2 separate regions of the Homo sapiens genome follow, and region 2 is reported to be linked to region 1. Evidence: microRNA targets listed by miRTarBase, many of them from high-throughput screens and not tested one by one. Region 1 holds a microRNA gene; the other region holds the end of a gene's coding sequence.
The links. The annotated mature microRNA hsa-miR-6806-3p reads UGAAGCUCUGACAUUCCUGCAG and lies in region 1 at 2,366-2,387, opposite strand. An mRNA with a match to its seed (bases 2 to 7 or 8) in the 3' UTR can be bound and repressed. Matches are read on the target gene's strand: a 7mer-m8 pairs with bases 2 to 8, a 7mer-A1 pairs with bases 2 to 7 and ends in A, and an 8mer does both.

Region 2: the mRNA of DNAJC3 is a reported target of hsa-miR-6806-3p. Seed matches in the 3' UTR shown: 8mer at 3,835-3,842.

What each region holds. Positions count from the first base shown.
Region 1 is chr19:58,331,737-58,337,116 of GRCh38, reverse strand. MIR6806 (microRNA 6806) reads right to left here and starts at 2,429; the gene lies at 2,366-2,429. ZSCAN22 (zinc finger and SCAN domain containing 22) reads right to left here. Exons shown (of 3, transcript NM_181846.3): 2 at 1,912-2,365. The coding sequence starts at 2,314.
Region 2 is chr13:95,790,023-95,795,402 of GRCh38, forward strand. It overlaps DNAJC3 (DnaJ heat shock protein family (Hsp40) member C3), which reads left to right. Exons shown (of 12, transcript NM_006260.5): 12 at 851-4,966. The coding sequence ends at 1,008. Among named protein-coding and RNA genes, the nearest start is that of DNAJC3, 120 kb to the left of the region's middle.

The sequences.
Region 1 (5,380 bases):
TACTATGAAGGCAGAGTGTGGCGGAGGTGCTCTTGGAGATCAGAGTGTGCATGAGGTAGAGGAATGCTCGCACTGACCTGCCCTGCATGGGTGCAAAGGACACATAATCTGGCACATCTACTGGATGGATTCCAGGGAGGAGGCAGAGACAGGTGGAATACCCACTGCTCAAGTCCACAGTGGGGCTCAGCAGTGCAGAAACTGGACTCAAACCCCAGGTCTACCACCTTAATCAGTCCTGCCCTCATCTGGGACTCAGTCTCCCCATCTGTAAGCCATGGATGCTGTGCCGCTGGCCTTCCAGGGCCACTAACCACTATCAGGCTCTTGTCGTGCTGGGCCCCAAGCACAGTGGGTGACTTCCATCGCCTCATTTCAGCTTCGACCTGCTCTCAGAAGGAGGTACTGCTGTGATTCTGTTGCAGATGGGGAAACTGAAATCCAGCTGAGGGAAGGTGTTGAGTAACTGGTACAGGATCACAGTTAGCTAGTGGCCCAGTTGGGATTTCAGCTCCAGAATGTTCTCCTCCAGGTCCACAGGCAGTCTCCCCTGCTCCCCCAGCCATCTGCTTGGCCCTGTCTCCCCCTTCCTTCCTCTATCCAGAAACATCACACCACCTGCTTTTACCAGAATACACCAGTGCAAATCACACTGCCAGGCCTTTGACCCCACCATTCCCTCTGCATTTTACCCTTTCTCTGAGCTTTGGCCAACCCTGTGGGAGGATGGGGCCACTCCCTCCTTCCTCTCCCTGTCTCTGTGACATCTGCTTGGGCATAGACCAACCTCTGTTCCAGAGAGGCCTGTTTCTCCCAGAGCTGAACAAATTATCCTAACAGTTGCAGTTACCATTTATTTAATCTGTGCCAGGCACCATTTCAGGTGCTGCACGGGTATTGCCTTGTATCTCGCAACACCACTAAGGTGGGCGTTTTTATTACAATCCCCATTTTACCCATGAGTAAACTGAGGCACAAGGGAGTCACATGGCCAGGAAGAGCAGCAGCGGTTGGATCTACTGAGCCTTGATGATGCAGCTGTATCCAGACTCCACATTCCTCCTGCACACTGCACGTTTCCTCCCAGTGTGTGGTATGCCCACCTCCTATCTGTTGCCAATAGGCCAGGCCAAGCCCATCTGAGACGAGCCACCACTCCCTGCTCTGGATTGTCCCAAGGCTGGGTCTTCCCTGCATCCCACTGGACCTCCCTGGGTTGGGATGTTTGTGTGGGTCTCTGTGAGTAACAGTGCCCAGCTGAGCCTGGGGCAGGTCTGACCCACCCAAATCCTGGAGGCCAGCCCAGGGTGGGCATAGAGAAGGTACACAGGGACATCTGGTATTTCCGTCACCCCCAACAGCCACCCCAGGCACCCAGGCCCTCGTCTGGTTTCCTCTGAGAAACAGCCAGTTGCTCACTGTTAGTCCCTGGGATTTGGTTGGCCAAACACAAACATAAGATCCCAACCAGGCCAGTGGGGGCTCAGACCAGGGACCTCTTATTGTTATTACCCCGGGGTTTCTACATTGGTAAGACATAAGCCTGGGGTTCCTGGCTATCTTTAACCCCTTTGGAAAGAGAACCTAAAATAAGAATGAAGCTAACACAGAAAAAACCAACTGAGAAACAGAACAAGAGAGGAAGAAGAGAGTTCTGATGCTGTCAACAGATCTTCTGGATATAGCCGTATCTGCTGCCTCCTTACCCTTCTTTGCTTCAGCCCATTTCAGCTCGCTTTTGGTCACCTGCAACCAAAACACACCTGTCTACAACAGTGTGTGAGAGTTACGGTAAAGTACAAATGTGAGAATGGGTGCATGAGCAACCCCAAACCAGAGCCCTGTGCTCCCATGTTCCTGTCCAGGGTGTATCTCTGGTGTGCCGTGAAGCTGCCCACGGCGCCCCTTTACCTCTCTTGTCCAGCACCTGAGTCAGATCCTCCACCAGCACAGCGGCTTCCTCTCCGCTCTTGGGACTCTGGGCTCCCACCCAGGCTTGGATCTCTGGGGGCAGCGCACCCAGGAACTGCTCCAGCACCAGCAGCTCCAGTATCTGCTCCTTGGAGTGCGCCTCGGGCTGCAGCCACTGACAGCACAGCGCTCGGAGGTGGGCCAGGGCCTCGTGTGGACCAGATGCCTCCTCATAGCGGAAGTGCCGGAAGCGCAGGCGTGCAGCCTCAGAGTGAGCAATGTGGTCATGGCTGGATTCTCCGCCCTGGGAGAGGCTGGCTTCCTCTTCCTCCTCCACCTTCACTTGAAGGAAGCTGTCCTCTTCCCACGGCACTGGGCTCAGGGAGTGCTTGGGGATGGCCATCGGGCAGCAGTGCTCAGTGAGACACAGGATGCCGGAGCCTTGGAACTGGGCCTGCAGGAATGTCAGAGCTTCAGCATCACATGGAACCTGGGCCCTGCCTCATGCCTACAGAGCAGGGAAAACACAGGCTTGTGGCCCGTGAGATGTGAAAGACTCTCACAAAGACATAGACAATCCTCATAATTAGGACAGCACCCACTTGGTGCTGAGCACTGTTCTAAGCTACTACTGCTTGCATGTAGACTCATTTAAAACTTACAACAAACACCATCCTGGCTAACATGGTGAAACCCCGTCTCTACTAAAAATACAAAACAAATTAGCCAGACGTGGTGGCGGGCACCTGTGGTCCCAGCTACTCAGGAGGCTGAGGCAGGAGAATGGCGTGAACCCGGGAGGCGGAGCTTGCAGTGAGCCGAGACTACGCCACTGCACTCCAGCCTGCGCAACAGAACAAGACTCTGTCTCAAAACAAAAACAAACAAACAAAAAACTTACAACAAACTCAGGAGGTGGGACTTTCTACCTATTTTATGGATGGAAAAACAGACACTCAGGAGGAAAATATTTGCCCAAAGTCCCTCAGCTAGTGAAGGGTTAACAGAGAGCTAAGCTACAAACCCACGCAAACCTACAGCCAGCCTGTTTAAGGCGTGCTCCTCCCCAACAGAGCCAAGTCTTTCTCCCTCTGTTCCCCAGGTAGCCACATGGTCATTCTCTCACTTTACTTGCTAATTATTTTGTAGTGTTTGAGATTGATACATAATTGACTTTCGCCTTTCCTCTTTTCTAATGCACATATTTAAGGCTATAAATTTCTCTCTAAACACAGCTTTAGCTATACATCACAAGTTTGATATGTTGTATCTTCATTATCATTTAGTTAAAAATATTTTCTAATTTCTGTTACAATTTCTACCTTACTCATTAATTATTTTTTAAAATTTATTTTATTTTTTTGAGACGGAGTCTCCCTCTGTCGCCCAGGCTGGAGGGCAGTGACGCTATCTCGGCTCACTGCAACTCCGCCTCCCGGGTTCAAGCAATCCTCCTGCCTCAGCCTCCCAAGTAGCTGGAACTACAGGTGTGCACCACCATGTGAGGCTAATTTTTGTATTTTTAGTGGAGACGGGGTTTTGCCATGTTGGCGGGGCTGGTCTCGAACTCCTGACCTCAAGCGATCTGCCTGCCTCGGCCCCACAGAGTGCTGGGATTACAAGCATGAGTCACCATGCCCAGTCCCATTGGTTATTTATTTAAAACTCTCCTGCTTCATTGCCAAACAACTGGGGGTTTTCTAGTTGTCTTTTTATTACTGATGTCTAGATTAAGTCTGTTGTGGTCAGAAAACATGCTACAATGGATTTCGATCATTTAAAATTTGCTGAAACTTGGTTTGTGACCCAGTGTATGGTTAATTTTGGTTAATGTTCCATGAATACTTGAAAATAATGCAAAGCTGTCTTAGCTATGACACCAAAAGCATAAGTAACAAAAGAAAAAATAAATAAACTGGACTTTATCAAAATTAAAAGCTTTTGTGATTTGAAGGACCACATCAAGAAAGTAAAAAAGCAGCCCACAGAGTGGGAGAAAATATTTGCAAATCATATATTTGATAAGGGACCTGTATCTAGAACAACTCCATAGTAAAAAGATGAATAATACAATTTTAAAATGAGCAAAGAATGTGACTAGACATTTCTCCAAGGAAGATACACAAATGGGCAATAAATACATGAAAAGATGCTTAACATCACTAGCTACCAGGGAACTGCAAATGAAAACCACAATGAGATAGCACTTCACACCTGCTGGGATGCCTATAATCAGATAACATGTGTAGGCAAGGATATGGAGAAACTGTAATCCTCATATGCTGCTGCTGGGAATGTAAGATGGGATAGCCACTGTGGGAAGTACAGTCTGGGAGTTCCTCAAAAGCTTAAACAGAGTTACCCCATGACCTAGCAATTCTACTCCTACGTATAGACCCAAGAGAAATGAGTATATGTCCTCACAAAACTTTATACATAAATGTGCATAACAGCATTACTCATAACAGCAAAAAAGGAGAAACAATCCAAATGTCCACCTGATGAATGGATAAAATGCTGTATATACCTATAATGGAACACTATTCACCATAAACAGAAATGAAGTACTGATTAATGCTACAACATGGATGAACCTTGAAAACATGATGCTAAGTAAAAGAAGAAAGACACGGCAGGGCACGGTGGCTCACACCTGTGATCCCAGCACTTTGGGAGGCCGAGGTGGGTAGATCACCTGAGGTCAGGAGTTCAAGACCAGCCTGGCCAACACAGTGAAACCCCGTCTCTACTAAAAAATACAAAAATTAGCTGGGTGTGGTGGCAGGCACCTGTAATCCCAACTACTCAGGAGGCTGAGGCAGGAGAATCTCTTGAACTTGGGAGGCAGAGGTTGCAGTGAGCCGAGAGTACACCACTGCACTACAGCCTTGGCGACAGAGGTAGACTCCATCTCAAAAAAAAAAAAAAAAAAAAAAAGCATATTAGTGTTTGTCAGAGGCTGAAGAGAGACAAAAATGAGAGTGGTTGCTAATAGGTTTGGGAATTTCTTTTGGGGATGATAAAAATGTTCTGGAGGCCAGGCGCGGTGGCTCACGCCTGTAATCCCAGCACTCTGGGAGACCGAGGCGAGTAGATCACGAGGTCAGGAGTTCAAGACCAGCCTGACCAATATGGAGAAACCCCATCTATACTAAAAATACAAAATCAGCCGGGCGTGGTGGTGCATGCCTGTAATCCCAGCTACTTGGGAGGCTGAGGCAGAAGAAACCCTTTAACCTGGAAGGTGGAGGCTGCAGTAAGCCGAGATTCTGCCATTGCACTCCAGCCTGGGCAACAAGAGTGAAACTCCATCTCAAAAAATAAAATAAAATAAAAATACAGCTTTTAAAAAAATAATGTTGGCCAGGCACGGTGGCTCATGCCTGTAATCCCAACACTTTGGGAGGCCAAGCTGGGCCGATCACAAGGTCAAGAGATCGAGACCATCCTGGCCAACATGATTAAACCC
Region 2 (5,380 bases), not on the chromosome of region 1:
AGTTTGCAAAAATTTTCTCCCATTCTGTAGGTTGTCTGTTTACTCTGTTGATAGTTTCTTTTGCTGTGTAGAAGCTCTTTAGTTTAATTAGATCTCATTTGTCAATTTTTGCTTTTGTTGCAATTTCATGATGGAAACACCAAAAGCAATCTTTGCTCATACCTATGTCCTGAATAGTATTTGCCTAGGTTGTCTTCCAGGGTTTTTCTAATGACTCTGAGGACATGAGCTCTTTCTTCCTATCCCTGCAATATTCCTCTTTATTGCCTTCTCCCATGTCTCTGCATTGATCTCTCTCTGTTCGGGGCTCAGAGGCCCCGCTGTGGGGGCACCAATTGCATGGGAGGGAAAGGTGAACCTCCTGGAGTTGTATGTTATGGAGGCCCCGCTCCCCTCATGTCTGAGGAGCCTTAGTGCTAGAATGCTCATTAGATGCTTGATGAGGTCATTGCCTTACAGACTTTATTTTGGGGATTAGGGTGGTGAGCTGGCTGTTTCATTAGAATTGTAGACTCTTGGAAGTTTCTCTTGAATTATTTTTTTCCAAATAATTTCATTGGGTAGTTATCAAGCTTGGGTGGCTTCTTCTGGAGTGAGATTTAGGGGCCTGAATCTCAATAAATACCTATTATCAACCCTGAACCTCACCCTCCTTGTGGCAAATTTCTCTAGTCTGTTTCTTCAGGGTGGGAATGGGAGAGCCTGGATTTGAATGTCAGGCACAACTCTTGATAACCGAAAAGTAAGTAGCTCCTCAAGCCCACCCACCCTCCTCTGCCCAAAGAAAACATTCCCCCTGCCCCTATACCTTAGATATTATCTGGTTCTTAATTTTCTGATTTCTTTCTAGAAATGAGAAAGAAGTTTGACGACGGAGAAGATCCTTTGGATGCAGAGAGCCAGCAAGGAGGCGGCGGCAACCCTTTCCACAGAAGCTGGAACTCATGGCAAGGGTTCAATCCCTTCAGCTCAGGCGGACCATTTAGATTTAAATTCCACTTCAATTAAACCAACTGTTTTTCTGCTCTTCTTAATTTTTTTAAAGATTAAAAACAAAGAAATCTTGTTCCGGGACCCTAATGAAAAAAAATTTCAAATCTTTTCAGTTTGTCCATGACCAAAGAGTTGCTTTAATAGGAAAAAATCTGTTCTTATCCCTGTCAGATTTATGGTTAATGGGTTTGCAACGGCAAGGAGGCAAGGAATGGTTCTATTTCTGACAGAGCAGCCTGCATCTGCTTTATGCTGTCTGGAGGGAAGTGGTCTGAGGCAGGCTCACCCGTGGAAGTGCTCACGTATTCTGTATTATTTTTCTACACTGGAGCTGAGATTCTTCTCTTCACAGCCTTGCAGAGTAAGTCAGTGCCTACAAGTGTAAGAAGGAGCTGTAATCTTCATGAGGATGGTTATACTTCAGTATTCTTAAAGAGAACATGAACATTTTTGAGCTGTATGTTCTTAGGGACAACTGTGCTTCGATGTGGTCAGTCTCGTCACTTGTGAGTAGCTGTGAAATCTTTAGTGTGCATGTGTTTGCACCTCTGTGGTCTGTCAACGTGGCTGTCACTGAAGGAGCAAGAGACCATCTTTTAGGAACCCTGCCACCAAATAATAATATATCCAGGCTTAGACTTTGGATTAATGTTAAATGTACATTTTTTTGGTTCAGTACCTGAAGAAGAATACTGAAACTTGAATCTATAAATTCCTATGGACCCTTTTAATATTAAACACAACAAATTAAAAGTTGTTATAGGTAAAATAAGTTCAGATAAAATAGTGGTGGTATTTAAAATAATATTGCTGAAGTGCAGATTGAAATACTTTTTAAACAACTGAAGTTCTGAGTTTTTATAGGGAATTTCATGTAACAAGACTGGTTTAGAAACGTAAAGTTGCGCAGTCAACATAAATAAATACAGAATGCCATGTTCTCCACTTCTAAGTAAAGACAGTGGGCAGCTTCTGTTTCTCCTTCTATCAAGGCTTCACCCTATCTTAAAGGTCTGTGGTGCCTCCCACGTGGGACCTGTCTGCTGGTATGTGTTAAACAGCAGACCGGCCCTTCTACCAGATCTTGATGCCTCTGATTTTCTCCTGCCTACAAGAAAATACAGGCAAGGTTAGTCAGGTCTGGCTATATTTCCACTGTTGTTTCATTTAATAAGATGGCATCTCCTCTTGAGATATGTTCTTCTTACCTTTTAAGAAGATACTATTTAAGAAGTGAACTATTCAGTCTTTGTATACTGAATGCTTTTTCCCTAAAAAATGTTAATCAAGAATATTGAATATTTATGGCACTCTTGATGCTGCATTTGAAAGCTGAAGGAATTACTTTAGATAGATAGGAATTGCTACCTTTATTCTGGAAAGGTTTTGTTTCTGCCTCAAAGCATTTTGAAGTGTTTTAACCATTAAAGGGTCTAATTTTTTTTTCTTAATGAAATCAAGCATTTTAATTCACTGTGGGAGGCATCCTGACCACGGACATCCATAACAGCAAAGCACAAATCGTTTTCGTCTGTAGTCATATCCTGAAACATAGGTGGACAAATTTTTAACTGAGAGACAAAAATCACATAGTTGAATTGAGCAGAACACTTAAGTGCTTTCTGCATCTATTTAGGAGTCTATTTCTTACCAATAAACTTGACAACGCATTTGGAAAACTAGTGAACACCTTACAGCTTTCATTTTGCTTTAATGTTTCAATTCAAGCCGGTGTAAAAATAATTTCCAAGGCATTTCTGTTTATTCTTTAGTAATCTCACTACTGGCTATGTCAGCAATATCTTTTTCAATCTGGTTCCTTTTGTATATGATGTCACTGTGACCTCTTTGAAATATAGTGATGGCTTTTACCTACTTTGAAAAGAATTTTCACATAGAGTCAGAAAAAAAAGGAAATATCAAATCACTTGCCTTTCCACTTGGAGAGCACGACAGTTGCCAACAACAAGGGGTCAAGGGCCGCACAGGAGATGTGTGGGGGCCTGGCCACCTCCCACCTGCTGCCCAGAGGCTTGTTTGCATTTTCATTTTTTCTCCACTTGTAACAACCATAGTTTCAGCTCCTAAATTCTTATCATGGATTTACTTAGTCATCTTAACTGACCTGCAGTTACTTGCCTGTTTTCAGTGAAGAGAGAGAAGCAGCTCTGGTGCCACATGCCAGTGCCATGGAGGGAAATGAATTCTCTGCAATCTGTTGTTTCGCTGATTCATGAAGAAAGTAACAACTGTTGAGTTTCAGCCTTGATGGCTGTCGGCAGTTTTCTGGTGTCCACCCAAACGGAGAGACAGTCACTCCTGCTTACCCTAATGTGTGACTGAGAAGCAGCCTGGGTGTGTAAAGAGATAGTCATTCCCCCTGCCTGTCTCACTGTAGGGTAGCATTATCCACTGTAAAACCATACTACTTTCATTTTCCCTTGGGGACTACAGGTGCCAGGTAACCTTTTTTTTTTTTTTTTTTTTTTTTTGAGACAGAATCTTGCTCTGTTGCCCAGGCTGGAGTGCAGGGACACCTCCCGGGTTCAAGCAGTTCTCCTGCCTCAGCCTCCAAGTAGCTGGGACTATAGGCACGCACCACCATGCCTGGCTAATTTTTGTATTTTTAGTAGAAATGGGGTTTCACTGTGTTAGCCAGGATGGTCTTGATCTCCTGACCTTGTGATCTGCCCGCCTTGGCCTTCCAAAGTGTTGGGATTACAGGCGTGAGCCACTGCGCCTGGCCATCAGGTAACCTTTATGGCTCTTTCAGGAAAAGTGAAATCAGAGAGGCGTACCCTAGCCACAGCTGTTGTATTCTGCTCTTCTTTCCTTTTTGGTGAGCTTCATGGGTGGAGTTATCAGTGGTCTGTACTTTGTGGATATTTTGCCCAGCAGGAAGTATTAGACACATCAGTCTAGAAGCATTGTGAAAAGGTTCCAAAACGGGAGACAAAATTTAATTCATTCCTCAGTTCTGAAAGTTTGTGCTTTCTTACCATGAATAGATGAAAACTTGAAAAAAATCTTGACAGTTTACTAATGTGAATCAGATGTAACGTACTACTAATTCTACAATGCCTTTCTCTTTAGTCAGTATTAAAAATCTTTTTTAAAGTATTGGTATGAAAACAAATTTTTGTTGCCCTGATAATGGAATTTTAAAACTACCCACAGTTTAAGAGAAAACATAACTTGGTAAAAAAGGTAGCCAATAAAACCACAATTTGAAATTGATACCATTTTCTACTCACAATGGATGATGAAAAATTTCACCTTTAAATGGGTCAGAAGTTGTCTTTGACATTTACCATGAAAAAACTACATAAAATGGCTCCCTGGTGAGGTTACAGACACGGCCCTGGTGATGGGCGTTGCAAAGTTTTCACTGAGCACACAGCAATGGTATCACCTAGAGAAGTTCACGCAACTTTGTTGAATGTAGTTGACTTTTCCAAATTTATAAAGGAAGGAAGAAGGCAAATGTTAATTTGCCAACAACGAATATCCTTTTTCTAAATCAGATCATTCCTTTTTTGTTAGTGGCAGTTTATCCTGTAATTTCAAATGACGTTAAGAGGTGGGATTATTTGGGGGTTTTTTTTGTTTGTTTACAGATGATCTCATTTGCTGAATGATTGATTTAAGAGTAAAATTAGCCACTGCGTGGCTTTGTGTATAGTAACCGGTTTTGTTGCACTTGTCTGTGGCTGAAACACTTACCTGCAGTGGAAAGCCGAGCAAGGAGGAGGTAAACATTGGAGATGTTTGTGAAAATATTACTCTTGCTGTGAGGTTTTAGTTTGTTTTGAATGAGAAAAGACTAAGTAACTTAATCCATCTCAATGTAGTGTTTTAATAAAAAAGGAACCTAATATTTGAAATGGGTCTCAGACATGTCTACAAATATGGGTACTATTTTTATGCCCGTGTATTTTCACATTTAATAAAAATATTTATGGTCATATCAGTATTTCCTTGCTTTTGATTCATTTTTGTCCTTGAGTATAAAATTCTAAGAAAGTCCGTCTTAGGAAAAGTCTATTATTTCCAGCTTTGCTTCACGCAAAACCAGTGACTGAGGTGACAAAAGGGCTCTTCCTTTACACAAGTTGACAGGGAAGGTCAGAACACACAAAGCAGAAAGGGCTAAAATAAAATCTCTTAACCCTCAAAAGTCCTAGGACAACTAAGGACTTAAAAAGTGGACAAGTCTTCCATTTCAGTGCTATTAAAATGTAACACTTAAATTGGCTTTGTCTGAAGATTTTCTCTTCTCTTTTATACCCCATTTGTACATTTCTGTTAAGGTCCTAAGTTGGGAGGAAGGAAGGACACTATAGCCTATCTATCTCAAATTTCCAGCTACAAACAGAAGGAACTGCCT